3 separate regions of the Homo sapiens genome follow, and all the other regions are linked to region 1. Evidence: fine-mapped expression QTL. A gene starts in region 1. Each other region holds a variant in brackets. All regions are shown on one strand. Distances are between the middles of the regions. Region 1 holds the start of DOK4 (docking protein 4). Region 2 overlaps CIAPIN1 (cytokine induced apoptosis inhibitor 1). Region 3 overlaps CCDC102A (coiled-coil domain containing 102A).

Region 1 (2,645 bases):
ATCTGGCTGGACCTGGCTCAGCTTCCAGAGGTGCGTGAGCCACAGTGGGCTCCCAGCTCCTGGGTCTCAGCGCTGACTGGCATGGCCAGCAGGCTGTTGTTACTGGAGAACCAGCTGTGCCCAAGACCCGCAGTTTGGTTCAGAGCTGCCTCAGGGAAGAGCATGCTGCTGACATCGAGGCCAGGCCTAGTTGGGCGGCCCCACCTTGGCCAGGGTTGTGGGGTGAGGTCATGCCCAGCCCTGCTGCCCTGCCCAGGAGGGAAGTGCTGGGAGTAACCAGTACCAGCACAGCAAGGCAAGCAACTGGGGAGAGGAGGCACAGCTCCTGGGATCAGAGTTGGGGGTGGGGGCAGGAAGAGCCTGTACCAGCGCCACATCCCTCTGAAAGGGTCCAGGAAAGAACCTGCCCTAAGCAAGCCCACCTCACACTGCCCAAGTGGAGTCTCCTAGAGATACTGCCAGGCCCCTCGCTGCCCTGGCCATCAGACCCCTCCAACCCACACCCTCCATCCAAGCGGAAGCGCCCCAGCAACTGACGTGTCCCCATGGCTTGGGGCAGGCAGGCTGCACAGAGCCCCTGCTCTGCCACATCACCCAGGTGCCCAGCCTCGGCTCATGCCCCTTTTCAGTAATAGAAAGCATGTAACTGGATCTAGGGCCTTGCGGGCCCTGGGGGAGAAGGTGGACAGGACCTTGGGGGCCAATGGAGAAAGGTTCAAGGACAGGAGGCAGCTGGCCATGAGTTTGGGCTGTGGGGAGAAACCCCATAGGCAGGAGGGGGTCGGCAGTGGGGGCCAGCTGGGGTACAGAAAATCATCTCTTGGAATTTGGAGGAGGTGAGCGAACAGGAGGCCCCGGGGAGGAGCAGGAAGGCAGAGAGAAGGTTGGGAGCTGCCAGGGGCTGGGTTATGCCCCTTCCGGGGGGGCAGGCCCGGGAGCGCAGGGCCTGGGTTGCTCGGATGAGGTTTGTGTGGGTGCGGGTGAGGTCAGCTCGCGACCTGGGCTCCCCCGGAGAGGAAAGCTGCGGGTGGAGAGAGCGCAGGGAGTTTCAGGGCCCAGGCACTGGCTTTTGGGGGGCGGGTCTCTAAGCTCCCCACCCGAGAGTAGGAAGGTCCCATGGGACGGAGCGTCCTCAGGTTCAGGAAGTGACTGAGGGTCCTCAGGGGTGGGAGTCGCCGAGACTCTTGCAGGCTCTGGGCGGCCTATGTCCCCCTCCCTGCCTCACGCCCCCCAATTTACCTGGGCGCCGAGGCCCGGGCCAGGAGCGCCTGCTCAGCGGCGCCGCGGAGCAGGCTCATGCCCGCGTCACGGCGCGGCTGGCGGGGGCGGCAGGGCGGCGGCGGCGCCGGGCTCCAGGCGGGGACGGCGAGGGAGGCGCGGCCGCAGGGCTAGGGATCGGGCTCCGGCTGGGGCTCCGGCTGGGACTCCGCTCCGCTCCCCCCTCCGCCAGGTCTCGCCGCTGCGCCCCGCCCCCTGCCCCGCCCTGGCGGCCGGCCCCCGCCGTATTCCTCCGAGCCGCGGGACGCGCGATTCTGCCCTGGCGCCCTGGCACCCCCGCACCCGCTTCAGGTCGCCCCCGGTACCCCCAGCTCATTCCCACCGCCCCTCCCTGGGCCCCAAAGCCCACATGGCCTCTCAGCCCCTGAAAGCTGAACTCCACATCAGCTCCCAGCCCCCACATCTCAACCCCTTCACTTCTTCAGGAATCACATACACACCCATACGCCACATCAGCTCCCAGCCCCCATATCTCAATTCCTTCACTTCTTCAGGAATCACATACACACCCATTGCTCCCCTAACCCCATCATGACTCTCTGGGCCCTCACAGCCCAGCTCTCCCAGCCCCACAGTGACCTCCTCTGCTACCCCTCCTCAAGTAGCCGCACCAGCACCTCTGTCTTCCCTGGTCTCCTCTCCACCCTCAAAACATCCAGTTCTCCCATTCTAGGTCCCCCTGAGACTTTGCCCTCAAGCTCAAACTTCATTCCCCTTCATTGCTGCCCCCACCCAGCCCCCAACCCCCTCACCTCTGCCCTTCGGGCCTGTGCAGTGGTTGACTCACTGATCTGTCGGAATCCCCAGTCACAGGCCTCAGCTGTGCCAGGCAGGGACAAGAGAAGTTGCCCAGTGCCTCCTCTGGGGAGGAGCTGTCCCCCCTCTGGTTTTCACGTCTGTACCTTTTTACACCAGGGCTTCTCAAAGTGTAGTCCCTGGACCAGAAGCTTCCCATCACCTTGAAACTTGTTAGAAATGCAAATTCCCTGCCCTACTCAGACCTATGAAATCAGAATTTTTGGGGGTTTCCAGCAGAAATGTGTGTTTTAACAGGCCAGGTGATTCTGATGCACACGAATGTGTGAGAACCACTGCTTTAGACCATATATACAAAACAAAACAATAGGCCACCTGAACAGCCAAAATCCTGAGAAATGAAAATACCTCCACATCCAGCTACTGTCCAGGTGTCTCAGAGGAATAGGCCTAAAGCAGTGAGGGACCAAGGATCCCAACACCCACCCATGGAATGCATGCCCCTGCCCCGGAGACGCCTGGGCCTCAGCCTTGCCCAGGGAGCTTAAAAGGAGGCTGCCTCTGGATGTCTGAAAATTTCCCTGATGGTCATTGTGGTGTCTGTGATCAGC
Region 2 (2,843 bases), 57 kb before region 1:
CAGCAGGGACTAGGATAAGCAAAGCAAACTTGGAGAATCAAATCAAGTTTCAAGGACAGATATCAATGAAAACTTTTATTTACTGGTAAAATATAAAAATCCAGGTCTCTTAAATCCACACAATCTCTCCAAATATTTGGCAAGATTGATTCCAAGTCCATATGGGTGGATAACAAGAACAAAGGGGTCTCTGCTCAGAGAGACGTATTGTCGTTCAGAGTTCTGCCCTGCTTCCCTCTAAATGCTCACCAACCTGGACTCTTCTAAAGTGGGCAGACAAGCCCTATTCTAAGCGTAGGAATAGCCCCATTTGTGCGTGACACTAAGTTCCTCCAATGGTCCAAACTGAGCGTGGATGACTATCCAACATCACACACAAATGCACATCCCCTCTCTTTACAAGACATGCAGAATCTCAAGATATGTCAAGATATGCAGCAAGTTTAATACCTGAAGGTTAACATAAATGACAACAGGACACAGATGCAATGCTACAGTCAAATGTGGTTGGGGATGGAAGGGGGCAGAGGGACACTGGATATCATCACAGCAACCAGTGAGTGAGTCCTCTGGTGCCCTGAGGAGGTTGTGAGCCACTTGACTCGTGTCACAAAGAATGGAGTAAACTAACAACTCTGAAAGACAAGAGGGTGGCAGCATTGCTGAGATGAGACTCAAGGCAGGGGTCTGCAGCTCTGTCACAGAGTGTTAATGCTCAACGATGCCTGGGCTCAAGAGCGTTCTGGTCAGCATTTTAACATCAGAAGAAGGGCTTCTTCAGGACACACTCCCTTCTCTTAACATGAGGTGAAGAAACCCATCCCATTCTGAAACCAGGTCCCATAATACCTTGGTCTTTTGATACACAGCAGCACTACACACCACTGTGCCCCCCAGCCAGCTTCACTCTGTCTGCTAAGCACCCACTCTGCAAACAGATCTCAGAGTGAACAAATCCAGAGGAGGTGGGAGGAGCCACCATGGTGGGATGTGAGGGACAGGAGTTGGCTGGAGGAGCAGATGGGTCCCATGTCAGGAACCTCCTAGGCATCATGAAGATTGCTATCACTCAGAAGCACCTTTTCCCCAGGTTTGAAGGCTGGCATCCCAAGGTAGGGGCAGCTGGCACAGCGGAAGGCATCGCCCAGGTAGCACTGGAGAGAGAGAATGGGGAAGCCAAGGGTCAGCTTATCCCAGGCATACCAGCCAGAAGAAAGAAATGCCTAATTTCATAATGTGGCCACAGTGGCCTGAAGGAAATGGCTATGTTTGCAGGTCCAATTGAGACCAAAATACTAAGAGTTTTCAAGATTTCTGGTTTCGTGAAAAACTATAGTCATGAAAAGTTCCCTAGGAGGCCATAGTTCTTTTTTTTTTGTTTTTGAGATGGAGTCTCCCTCTGTCACCCAGGCTGGAGTGCAGTGGCGCGATCTCAGCTCACTGCAAGCTTCGCCTCCTGGGTTCCCGCCATTCTCCTGCCTCAGCCTCCCAAGTAGCTGGGACTACAGGCGCCCGCTACCATGCCCGGCAAATTTTTTTGTATTTTTAGTAGAGACGGGGTTTCACC[A/G]TGTTAGCCAGGATGGTCTCGATCTCCTGACCTCGTGATCCGCCCTCCTTGGCCTCCCAAAGTGCTGGGATTACAGGCGTGAGCCACCGCACCCGGCCTTTTTTTTTTTTTGAGATGGAGTCTCCCTCTGTCACCCAGGCTGGAGTGCAGTGGTGCGATCTCAGCTCACTCCACCTCCCAGGTTCAAGTGATTCTCCCGCCTCAGCCTCTGGCATAGCTGGAATTACACACGTGAGCCACTGCGCCCGGCCATAGTTCTATATTCTATGCAGTTCAAAACACAACCAACTTTAGCTAACTGTCTAACCATCAGGTCCCACTCTGAAGTACAAAGAAATGGGCCAAAAATAAAAAGCAACAAGACCCTCCCTGACCAGCACAAGCACGCTAACCCACTCTCACTCTCAGGAGACAGCCTCTCTCCCCATTACTACCTACGTTCGTGTGCTCACGCATTCGTCTGTTACTAAAATATTTGAGGTGGAGCTTGTCTGTGTTTAGTTTAGAAGAAGGTCTAATCCCCCTGGGGGTTTGTGAATGCTGAGGAATGATCCTGATATTTACGTTTCCACAAGCTGACTTGGGTTGGGAGCTCATCTGTTCCCTTGACTTCTCTTTTTCCAGTTCTTCGGCAAGGCCACAGGTGCTGCGGGAAAATCAGTAACTAATGAACGAGAATTGTCACCACCCAGAAATCCCAAATCCTAACAGTGCCAAAATGTGCTTTAAGCCTTTTCTCTTCACACCAGTGTCATAACTCAGAAGCCTATAGGCCAGGCAGACAGCAGCAATATGAGAGGCTGCTGAGGGAGACAGAAGTGGGAGGAGGATGAGGGAAGTACCGTGTGTGCTCTGTCTACAGAGGGCAGCCACTACTCAAGCTTCAGCTGGTTATCATGCTGGGGAAAGTGGACCCAGATTGCCATATTTTCCAAATTCAAGAACAGAAGGGAAAAAAATCTGTGTTTTCACTTGAAATTTCCTGATTTGTAAATGCTGGCAGCTTTTACATTTAAAAAACACTGATGATTAACGCTGATGATGAACATCACTGATTAACTTTCTACAATCCTTCCCATCCATTTATAAAAACAAATGTGAAGACACCAAGGTCTCGCTCTGATGCCCATGCTGGAGTGCAGTGGCACAATAGTGGCTTACTGGTAGGGTTTTGAGGGAGAGTGAAATTAGATACATGGCACAATTACGGCTCACTGCAGCCTCGACCTCCCAGGCTCAAGTGATCCTCCTGCCTTTGCCTCCCAAGTAGCTGGGA
Region 3 (2,500 bases), 27 kb after region 1:
GCCGATGCCGTCCCCCACAACCCCCGCCCACATCTGCCATACTTTCAGATGCCCCAAGAACTTGAACTTCATTTATTACAAATAACTGGGTTCACTGCATTGTATGATGAACAGCGAAGCCTAGAGAGGCAGCCCAGGGTGGGGCTCCAACAACTGCCCCCAACATGCCCAGCCCTGCATGAAGTCCTGGGTGGGTGAGGTCATCTGGACTGGGCCTTGGAGCTGTCCTGTATTTATAAAACCAAATGGGTCCAAAGACTTCTGGGTGTGCGCGCGCGCGCGCGCGTGTGTGTATATATATATATAAAACATAGGCTTCCTTTCCACAGGGCGTTGGTAGGTGGGACTGTTGACGCCATCCCTGGGAGAGAAGAAAGTCGGCTGTGGCAGGGACTGGTCCCAGAGTGAGCCTAGGCACTGCATCAGTTTGAGTGGCTGGTTAGCCTGGACCCTGGGCAGGTATGGGGCGGCCCATCCTGCCCAGCCACAGGAAGCTCTAGGCCACCTGGATTTGCAGGTCCTCGTCCTCGTCCAGGTCACTGGTTCCATCCTCGGCCTCCTCGGTGCCAAAGCGAGCACTGCGGATCTTCCCGAAGAGGGGAGCGTTCTGCTGCTGCCTGCGGAGCCTGTGGGGTGGGGGTGACAGGAGGTTAGAGCAGCCTGGCTGGTAGTCCCCCGATAAGGTGGCTGCAGCTGGTGCTGGAGCAGTTAAGCCTTCCCTGGTGCTTTCCCTGCTGTCTCATCTCCTGTAATCTCCTTATATGATAGAAGTGCCATTATCACCCCCATTTTACAAGCAAGGAAACCGAGGCACAGAAAGGTGAAGTCATTTGCTCAAAGTCACACAGATGGTGGGGAGTGGGGCAGAGCTCTGAACTGAAGTGGGTGGTGCCAGAGCAGCTGGGCGGTTAGAGAGGTGAAGGAGCTGGCTCAAGGTCATGCTGCAGGATTTGAACCCAAGCCTGGCTCTCAGAGCACAGGCAGCAGAGTTGGTTGGTGTGACAGTGCAGGGTGGGCTGAGCCCTCTACATTCCCAGTGTCAGTGAGAAAGGGCTCAGCCCTAGTTCTTCCTCACATTAAAATTCCTAAAGTCAAAATTTACGAGGAAAACTTTGAGTCTAAGAAGAGCTGGTGAAGGAAATGCCGATCCCTCCCCCAACCCCCCAGCAAAGTGGCCGCCCCGGCTGCATCTTACTGGAAGACATGAATTATTAACACGTAAGGGAGGG[G/T]CACAGGCGGGGGCCTCCATTACTGCACAGTGATTTAGTGAGCTGTCCCCGGAACATTAAAGCACAAAAAGTTGGAAAATAAAACGACACAGCGGTCCTGGGTGGCCCCACCCTCCCCGATGGAAGCACTTGAGAGGCCCAGCAGGGCCTGCCTGCCCACTTCTGGAGTTTATGGCTCCTGAACAATGTGACCCAGACTGCGGGAAAGCCCCAAGGCTAAGTGGTCTTTTGAAGGGTGTGTGCTGCAGGGTCAGAGCAGGCAGAGCCAGCCAGGCATGGGTCCTGACTTGGGCCCACGCCTGGGCCCCTGCACAACACTTTATGGGCGTCATCCCAGGCAGATGGGGAAATCGAGGCTCAGTTTACCATGGCACAATAGCTGTTAGGTCTCTGCAGCCCATTCTCTAAGCCACAAGATCTCAGCAAACAGCAGCATATAGTAAATGCTCAATAAATAAGGGCTTGGATGGCTGATGGCCAGGGGTGATTCTGCCTGGCCACCCACCAACTGTGTGGCCATGGAAAGACTTACCCTCTTGGGCCTTAGTTTCCTCATCTGCCAGCCCCCTAGGAAAAAACATCTTTCCTTTCTCTCATAGAAGCAGCGTGATGCTGATGCACAACATGTAACCCAAATATAAGCCCCTCCGCAGCGGTAGTAGTAACAGTAGTAATAGCAGCAGCTGCTGACAATCACTCAGCATTTATTATGTGCCAGGTGTTTTCTTTCTTTTTTTCTTAGAGACGGGATCTCACTTTGTCTCCCAGGCTGGAGTACCGTGGTGTGATCACAGCTCACTACTATAGCTATGAACTCCTGAGCTCAAGTGATCCTCCTGCCTCGGTCTCCCAAGTAGCTGGAACTACAGGCACACACCACCATGCCTGGCTAAGTTTTGTATTTTTTGTAGACATGGGGGTCTTGCTTTGTTGCCCAGGGGGTCTCAAACTCCTGGTCTCAAGCAATCCTCTTGCCCTGGCCTTCCAAACTGTTGGGATTACAGGTGTGAGCTACCATGCCTCCAGGTACTTTCTTAAGAATGGATCAGCTCATTTAATACTCACAACAATCAAGAGGTAAGAACTATCATCATCCCCATTTTACAGATGAAGAAACTGACACAGAGAGGTTAAATAAATGTCCCAAGGCCACACAGCTGCTAATGCTGAGCCAGGCTTCAGACCATTCAGGCAGTCTGGCTGCAGAACCGGGCACCCTCTATTCCACGAAAGAAGAGAATGCAACTAAGTGCATTCTCAGGGCCCGGCAC

What was found.
Region 2: its variant is fine-mapped to the expression of DOK4 in whole blood (TOPMed, PIP above 0.99).
Region 3: its variant is fine-mapped to the expression of DOK4 in lung (TOPMed, PIP above 0.99).

Annotation. Positions count from the first base shown.
Region 1 is chr16:57,485,066-57,487,710 of GRCh38, forward strand. It overlaps DOK4 (docking protein 4), which reads right to left and starts at 1,428. Exons shown (of 9, transcript NM_018110.5): 1 at 1,240-1,428. RefSeq lists an enhancer at 681-1,477 and a silencer at 1,309-1,608.
Region 2 is chr16:57,428,127-57,430,969 of GRCh38, forward strand. CIAPIN1 (cytokine induced apoptosis inhibitor 1) reads right to left here. Exons shown (of 9, transcript NM_020313.4): 8 at 2,132-2,213; 9 at 61-1,154. The coding sequence ends at 1,044. Among named protein-coding and RNA genes, the nearest start is that of CIAPIN1, 18 kb to the right of the region's middle. The variant A/G (reference allele first, on the strand shown) is at 1,568.
Region 3 is chr16:57,512,245-57,514,744 of GRCh38, forward strand. It overlaps CCDC102A (coiled-coil domain containing 102A), which reads right to left. Exons shown (of 9, transcript NM_033212.4): 9 at 1-626. The coding sequence ends at 497. Among named protein-coding and RNA genes, the nearest start is that of CCDC102A, 23 kb to the right of the region's middle. The variant G/T (reference allele first, on the strand shown) is at 1,230.